2 linked regions of the Homo sapiens genome follow. The protein of the gene in region 2 interacts with the protein of the main gene of each other region in a biochemical or structural test. Each region holds a gene or a part of one and is shown on either strand. Other genes may lie near its edges.

Evidence for each region. The genes of interacting proteins can lie anywhere in the genome.
Region 1: the proteins of ANXA6 (region 2) and RASA1 form a complex in vitro, tested with the Homo sapiens proteins (one study listed by BioGRID).

What each region holds. Positions count from the first base shown.
Region 1 is NC_000005.10:87,368,797-87,372,666, reverse strand, and holds part of RASA1 (ras GTPase-activating protein 1), read right to left. Parts: intron 2,855-3,870; coding exon 2,767-2,854; intron 550-2,766; coding exon 472-549; intron 1-471. UniProt on the Homo sapiens protein: Inhibitory regulator of the Ras-cyclic AMP pathway. Stimulates the GTPase of normal but not oncogenic Ras p21; this stimulation may be further increased in the presence of NCK1.
Region 2 is NC_000005.10:151,147,485-151,151,354, reverse strand, and holds part of ANXA6 (annexin A6), read left to right. Parts: intron 1-3,428; 5' UTR 3,429-3,453; coding exon 3,454-3,471; intron 3,472-3,870. UniProt on the Homo sapiens protein: May associate with CD21. May regulate the release of Ca(2+) from intracellular stores.

The sequences.
Region 1 (3,870 bases), about 64 Mb from region 2:
CCACAAATCTCAAAGTATAGGGCATGTTACAGTTTCAAATAAGATTAAATATTTCCTAAGAGTTAAGCAGTAGGTTTTAAAAGCTGTTCTTCAAAATGAAAATCCCAAAAAAGTTTATTGGGATTAGTGCTATAAATCTGATGATCTTTTCAATGTTCTACTTTTTTGAAAGAGGCCAAAATAAGTTTTTGAAGGAAAATTAAGTGCCCAACAGAACCGTTTCTGCTGTGTTGGTTTAGTGTTGTTATTTAAAGTGGAAGAATAATCTTTCTTATGTTTTTAACAGTTGGCATGGACTAAGAAAGAACATTCTCTTTCATAAAGAAGTAACGTTTTCCTGCTACTGAAGCAAGTGGCAGCATGGCTTAACCCCATATGATGTCCAAAACAGTTCAGATAAAAATAAAATAAAAAGAGCAAAGTGTTAGAGCAAAATGTGACAATTAAAAATCCAAGAAAATTAAGCTTCACCTGACGAAGGCGTTTATTGGATGTCCCTGGACTACTTTTCCGTAAATTGCAAAATGCCTGCAGACCTTTCATCCAATCCTGCAAAGAAAAACAGCACTTCAAAGAAATATACACTAGTTTATTTGGCTTCCAAATCATCAGTTAGGTTTTTTTTTTCAAATTCAACAATTTTTTCCTTCTCTAGACTGCCATTTCTATTCTCAGACTATACTGTACTTCATAACAATAACCAATAATAAAATAACAATAACATAACAATAACAATAATAAAACAACCAAAACAATTGTAATTCTGTATAAATCTTTGTTTGAATTTATGTATGAAACACATCGAGTGGCCATTAATTAGCCAAAAAATCAAATTTACATTAAAGAAACTATTTCTCCCAAACAGATACTACCTTGGGGAAATTAACTGTATAATTAAGCTGTTATACTTGAGGCAAGCTTAGGTGGAATTTAACTTGATACACTTTGTGAGAGGGGGAGAGTGCTGATTGTAAAACCAACTGATAATGTGATGACCGATCCCATGACAAGCATATTAATCTATACTTTAGACCATGATACAGGTAGAAATGTATAAGGGGATTTGGGTTATTTTTAAGCTTCTCAAATATAACATTAGATTTTAAAAATCATTTTAGCCTAATATTCAAATCAAATTGCAGCCATATTTTTAAAATGTTTATCTAGTGCTTTGGGGAAAAGGAGAGAACTAAGGTTTATTAAAAACAAATCTAAATATTCACTTTGGTTTTTACATATTTCTGGAAAGCTGTGTACTATTGCTTTATTCAATTATGTCTTTAGTTTGTTGGCTATTTCAATGAAGCTGAACTTTATTAATATCTAGAGACTGTCTTTATATTACAGCAAATTAAAACCAAATCAGTTACCATAGCTTTTTGAAATAGAAGAGAATAACCAGAGACCCCCACAGCCCAATAAATCAACAAAAACTGGAAATACCATTTATGGAAATACAGAAATATTATGTATAAATACATTAAAAAATGTTCTATGTTAGGCTTGCAAAACATGCTGAAATGTCATTATGGTATGTGACATTTTATTCAGAAAGAGGGACCATGGTAAAATACTTAGAAAATAGGATACTGAAGTTTAAATTTCTAACTCAATTTCTAACATTTAAAAAAATCATGTAAGTTACCAAAATGTTTTGAGCACTACCTTTCTCATCTAAAAATTAGGGATACATAGCCGTAAAATTTTATGTGCATTACATGTGAAATGAGCATTAAATGAGATATTTGATAAAGATGTGAAATATGACGTTCAGTTGTAAGCTCATTCAGGTTTATTCTGTGAGTCTCACGCTAGGATCTAGTTTTAAGAGCATCTTCCTCATATCTAGGGTTGGCAAATTATATTTCCAACAAAGCCACTTTCACTTCTTAACCACCTTTAAGTTCCTTCGTTAGAATATAAGCAGAAATTTAGCTGTATTTGTATAAAATACAACCATATACTCCAGAAATATTAGGGTTCAAAGAAAGCAAAAAAATTTTTTAAGAGACAGTGTCTCAGTTTGTTGCCTAGGCTGGCTTACAGTGTCTCGATCTTACTCACTGTAACTCAAACTCCTGTGCTAATGCAATCTTCCTGCCTCATTCTACCCAGTGGCTGGGACTACAGGCATAAGCCAGAACACCTAGCTAATTTTTTACTTTTGTTATAGAGGTGGGTTCTCCCTTTGTTGCAAAATATTTTTTAAAGAGTGTTTTTTAAAAAATATTATTTCTTCACACAATTACTTAATAGACGCTATAAGAAGGACACTGCACATGGATTAATAGCTAATCTAAAGTAGACATTATATCTCGACTTGGCTTAGAGAATAGATTCCTAAAATATCTTTCCTTGTGTTGACTGACTTTTATTTTCAGACATGGAGTTCAACCAGTGAAGAATAATGCTTGTTAGCAAAACTAACTGGTTAACTGGCTTACCTTTGGATTATACTGAGATGACCTATAACCTTTATGCAGAGAGGATTTTAAATGAGCATTCTCAGTTGGCCTCAACATCATAGAGTATTTAAAGGTCAATTTAAAATGGAGTTTTCATTCCTAATAACCCTTCACTGTGTTTGTTTTTGCATTTCTTTCAGAAAACTTTTTACATATGAAATCTCATTCCTTAAAATAAGAGATGATTAGATTTCAGGCGTTCTGTCACTTTATCTTGAATGCGATCATTTTCTATTCCAGTTAATAAGAAAACATGGGCTAACATAAAAGTATACTGTAGTTTGAGAAACAGTAATCTTACCTCTGCTTGTTCTGGAGTTTCTCCTGCAAAGTAAAAGATGTAATGTTCTTCACTAAAGTGCTGAACTACTATCTGAAAACAGTTTGGCCTTTAAAATAAAAACAAAAATTATTAGGAAGCTTAATAAAAAGTAGCAAAATATTTATACCAGCTTCCAAAACACTCACAATAAATAATTAACATAAAATTATAATTCTTAAAGAAATAATACTCCATTGTACCAGATCATTACTAAAAAAAAGTCAGCTATATATATTTTAGAAAACTTTATGTCAGCACTATTAAAATGTTATCAGTATTTCAAAGTGTAAACTAAAGAAATTTCAATTAATTGTAAAATACATTAGAAATAAAGTTACAAACAGATTGAAGCTGAACTGCTAGAACTGCACACAGCTAATTTGAAAAGCTTTATATGCACTGGAAAAAGACTAGAAATGTTCTTAGACCAAAAATGTTCTAAGTAATTATCTCTAAGGAGATTGTAGGTGATTCTGTATTTTCAAATTTTTCTAAACTGATCATTTTTCTTCACCTGTTAAAATGGAAACATCATCTCTTCATACATATGCTTGTTCTAGAGTTTAAGTGAACAGTTGTGTACAACAAATGTTCTTGTCTTCCTTTAGTATTATTTCAAATCATTTGATATGTAAGTACAATATTAGGTAATAATTTATATCATTTTGGAAATGTGCTATCTTTCCAACTAGACTTGAAAATATTGGTAAAATCTTTATTAAGGGCCTGCATGTTTTTGGAACTCAATAAATGTTACTTCTGTTTCCTGCTTTAAAGATTTTATATCATGCTAATGTTAGGAGGCCATAGCAAAAATACACAGAGGACAAGCTTAACACTTATTAAAGATAAAGACTATATTTTCATGCTTTGAGAATGTCTTAAAAGTAATCATGGAAAATAGGAATTGGAAACTTCTAATCCTAAATGTTGCCTGTATCAGACTAACCACCCTAGTTGGATAAAACTTAAAATAGTAATACAAAACAGAAAAACAACTGTTTGAAAGCACTGGAGAACAACCAAAGCAGCTAAGATTTGAGGAGCCAAGATCATACTATAATTAACCCGACATTCTCCACA
Region 2 (3,870 bases):
TATTAAGGGCCCTTGTGGGATTCAGAAACACTAGATGTAAAATATTCAGCCAATTTGAGCAGTATGGTCTAGGTTGCTCTGGGAGGGATCAGAAGCCATCTTAAAGCCAGGGTAAATGGTGTGTTTATGATTAGCTCAGGAGCTTCCCAGAACCCTCAGAGGCGGGGCTGTGGAATCAGCAGGGGGACTGGCCCTCAGAACTGCAGTCTGAACATCTAGTTCTGGAAGGAGCTTGCTTTTTACATATGAACTGTGCACTCACACAAGGCACACAGAAACTGCTCTCAGAGCTGAGAATATTTTCCCAAACAGTAAGAGGCCCCTCCTTGAAGCCATCTCTCCTTGGAAAGGGGAGCTCCTCCAGATGGGCCTGGGCTGCAGCCAGCAGCTGAAATTGCCAGCAACAAGCCCAGAGGAAAGTGCTTCAAGGCTGGAGATGCAGGTGACAGGCCTCAGCCCTCCCTCTGTCTGTGTCAACTAACTTCCTGGGTCTCATTCAGTCCCTGGTTCTCTGCTAGCCTTGGGCTTCCTTCACTGTCTCCCCCTACTATCCCCCAGGTCAGAGGAAACCGAGAGCTGGCCTCCAGCCTCATCCCGGGGTAGATGTGGGCCCCCTCCTCCCCCCACCACACACTGGAAAGGGGGTACAGTTTCCATTTCCTGGTGAGAGCTGCACAGTTGTACCAAGGGGCCCCTGGTTGCCAGGGAAACAGCAAGGTTTCCTGAAGCTGAGCTGAGCTGAGCTGCATTTGCAGGCAGATCCGTCCTCTGCCTTCCACTCCCAACCCCATATGATGACTGTCCTCAGCTGACTGCAGCTTGGGGAACTCATAATCAGCCAGTGAAGACACAGAGGCAAACACGACAGAGGCCCTGTCCTCAACTTCCCACCAGCACAGTAAATATCACCATTTACTAAGAACAGGTCTTGTGCCTGGCCTCTTATGTGCTGCCTTTGACATAACTTAGGTCTTATCCTCCAACAACCCTACAAAGCAGAAAAGGGAAAGCTTCAGTTTTGTGCTTGAGATCACCTTGAACTCAAAAATGAGCAATAAGCCCACGGTCACATGGCTAAGATTTTCCCTAAGTCTTGGGGGAACAGGGAATATGTGGAGAACTGGAAGGCATTGAGCTGAAATGTCTCCATGATTTCTACTCTCCTAGTTCTGTTCCTTTTAGGTCTTACTGGGTAAATCTGATTGACTTTGTTATGTTTACTTTTTTTTTTTTTTTTGAGTCAGAGTCTCACTCTGTTGCCTAGCCTGGAGTGCAGTGGTGCCATCTCTGCTCACTGCAACCTCTGCCTCCCAGCTCAAGCGATTCACCTGCCTCGGCCTCCTGACTAGCTGGGACTACAGGCACACACCATCACACCTGGCTAATTTTTGTATTTTTTCGTAGAGACGGGGTTTCGCATGTTGGCCAGGCTGGTCTCAAACTTCTGGCCCCAGGTGGTCCTTGCCGCTTGGCCTCCCAAAGTGCTGGGATTACAGGCATGAGCCACTGCTCCTGGCCTCTGTTATGTTCACTTTTAAAAAGCAATACATAGACATTGTTAAAAGAGATCAGGCCAGGCTTGGTGGCTCACGCCTATAATCCCAGCACTTTGAGAGACTGAGGAGGGCAGATCACAAGGGCAGGAGTTCGAGACCAGCCTGGCCAACATGGTGAAACCCATCTCTACTAAAAATACGAAAATTAGCCAGGTGTGGTGCCGTGCACCTGTAATCCCAGCTACTCAGGAGGCTGAGGCAGGAGAATCGCTTGAACCCGGGAGGTGGAGGTTGCAGGGAGCTGAGATTGCGCCACTGCACTCCAGCCTGGGTAACAGAGCGAGACTCCATCTCAAAAAAAAGAGATCAAATTGCCCAGACCTGCTTAAAGTGGAAAGTAGTGGTCCTTTGTTTCTCTTCTCCTTCTCTTAAGAAGATTGTTAAACTTTCATCTGTTGCCCTCCTGAGTGCTCATTAGCCAGCTCCCTACCTGCTTCTCTTATACTTCCCAAATCAGTTACATCTCTTTTTGCATTTATTTTTACGTATCATATCTTTGTTCCTTCACTGTAGACCCTGTCTCCTGATATCCTCCACCCGCATTCCTTATCCATTTTCAATGAGATATGTGTCCTGTTTTCCTGTGTGTTCCTGTCTTTTTTTTTTTTTTTTTTTTTTTGAGACAGGGCTTGCCCTGTCACCCAGGCTGGAGTGCAGTGGTGCAACCTTGGCTCACTGCAGCCTCCACCTCCTGAGTTCAAGCAATCCTCTCGCCTCAGCCTCCCAAGTAGCTGGGACTATAGGCATGTGCCACCATGTCCAGCTATTTTTTTTTTATTTTTTTTTAATAGAGATCGGGTCTCACTATGTTACCTAGGCTGGTCTCGAACTCCTGGGCTCAAATTATCCTCCCACCTCAGCTTCCCAAAGTGCCAGAATTATAGGCATGAGCTACCACGACCAGCCTGAAAAATCCAGTCTTTACAGTGGCCTCAGGCACCGGTCTCAGATCCTACATCCTACCACACCACTCCCTGCTACCACACCAGCCACACTGAGCTCGTGGTGGTTCCTCACTTGCACCACCCCGCGGTGTGCCCCAGTCACACTCGTGAGATCCTCTGACCCCTCCACCTGGGACTACACCCCTTGTCACTTTCCTGACCAAGCCTTGTCTTTTCTCTGTAGTTCTTATCTCAGCCTGATGAGTGCATTTGTTATTCATTCCCATTACAGCATAAGCTCTAGAGAAACAGAATTTAAAAAATTGCTCATATTTCTGCATGCACAGTGCCCAGAGCAATGCCTGACTAGGATAGGCGCTAAATGAGTGCATACTCACTTGTTCAGGAATGACAGTCCTTCAGATATTGCAGCAGGTGGTTGGAAGCACTTTGAGTCCTATCTGCAGGCGGTCAAGCTCTGGGTTCTGAAGCCATCCTTGTTGACTTGAAAAGGGGGCATGCATGGTGCAGATAGTATAGACTCTGGGATCTAGAAATTGTTGAATTCAGTTCTAAGCTGTGTGATCTTGGCTCATTTATTGCGATGCTCCAGCCTCAGTTTCCTCTCTATAAAAAAGGAGAATCTGATGTGTGGAAGGATTTCTGAGAGTAGTAACTGAGACGGTGCTGAGACAGGTACCCTGCCTAGTGTGGAGGAGTCAAGGGGTCAGTGGTGGGTCAGTGCCATGCCCGCCCTCCCTTGGGGATCCGCGTCCCTTTCCCATACTGCTGTGAATGTCTGGACACCATCTAGTCTGTCCATTGTCTTCTGAAAAAAATGTGATTGGCCTTGAGCTGGGTCATTGGGTCTGATTTAACCTGAAGGGCTGGGGGCAGCTGGAAAACAGCAGAGGGAGGAAATGTAAGGGAAAGAAAGGGGATGGTTAGAGTTGGGGGGAATCTCACATGCTGTCTTTCTTCTCTACAGTGGATTCTGCTGCGAACCGGAGACCATGGCCAAACCAGCACAGGTAAGGGGCCTCTCTTTCCTGAAGGTGGTACTCAGCCTTCTCTGGGCCTGGGATCCTCCTGGAGCCACTAGGCCTGCTACAGAGACCCCTGGTACCTTCAGCTTGAAAAAAGGAGGAAAGGTTCTTAGGCTTTGCTTGCTCCTGTTACAAGTCATGGCTCTTCAGATGCAGGTCACCATAATGTAATATAACCCACAATATCCTAAGCAGAAAAGGATGTGTATTGGCTTATCTGACAGAGAGGCCCAGGGCTTCAGGTCTGGTTGAATCCAGGGGTTTCCAAATGATAGTGTCAAGATTCTGCCTGTGTGAGCTGGGCTTCTTCCGGTGGCTTCATTCTTGGGTAGGTTCTTCCTTGCATTGGCATGGTAGTCATCAGCAGCTCCAGGCTTCCATTCT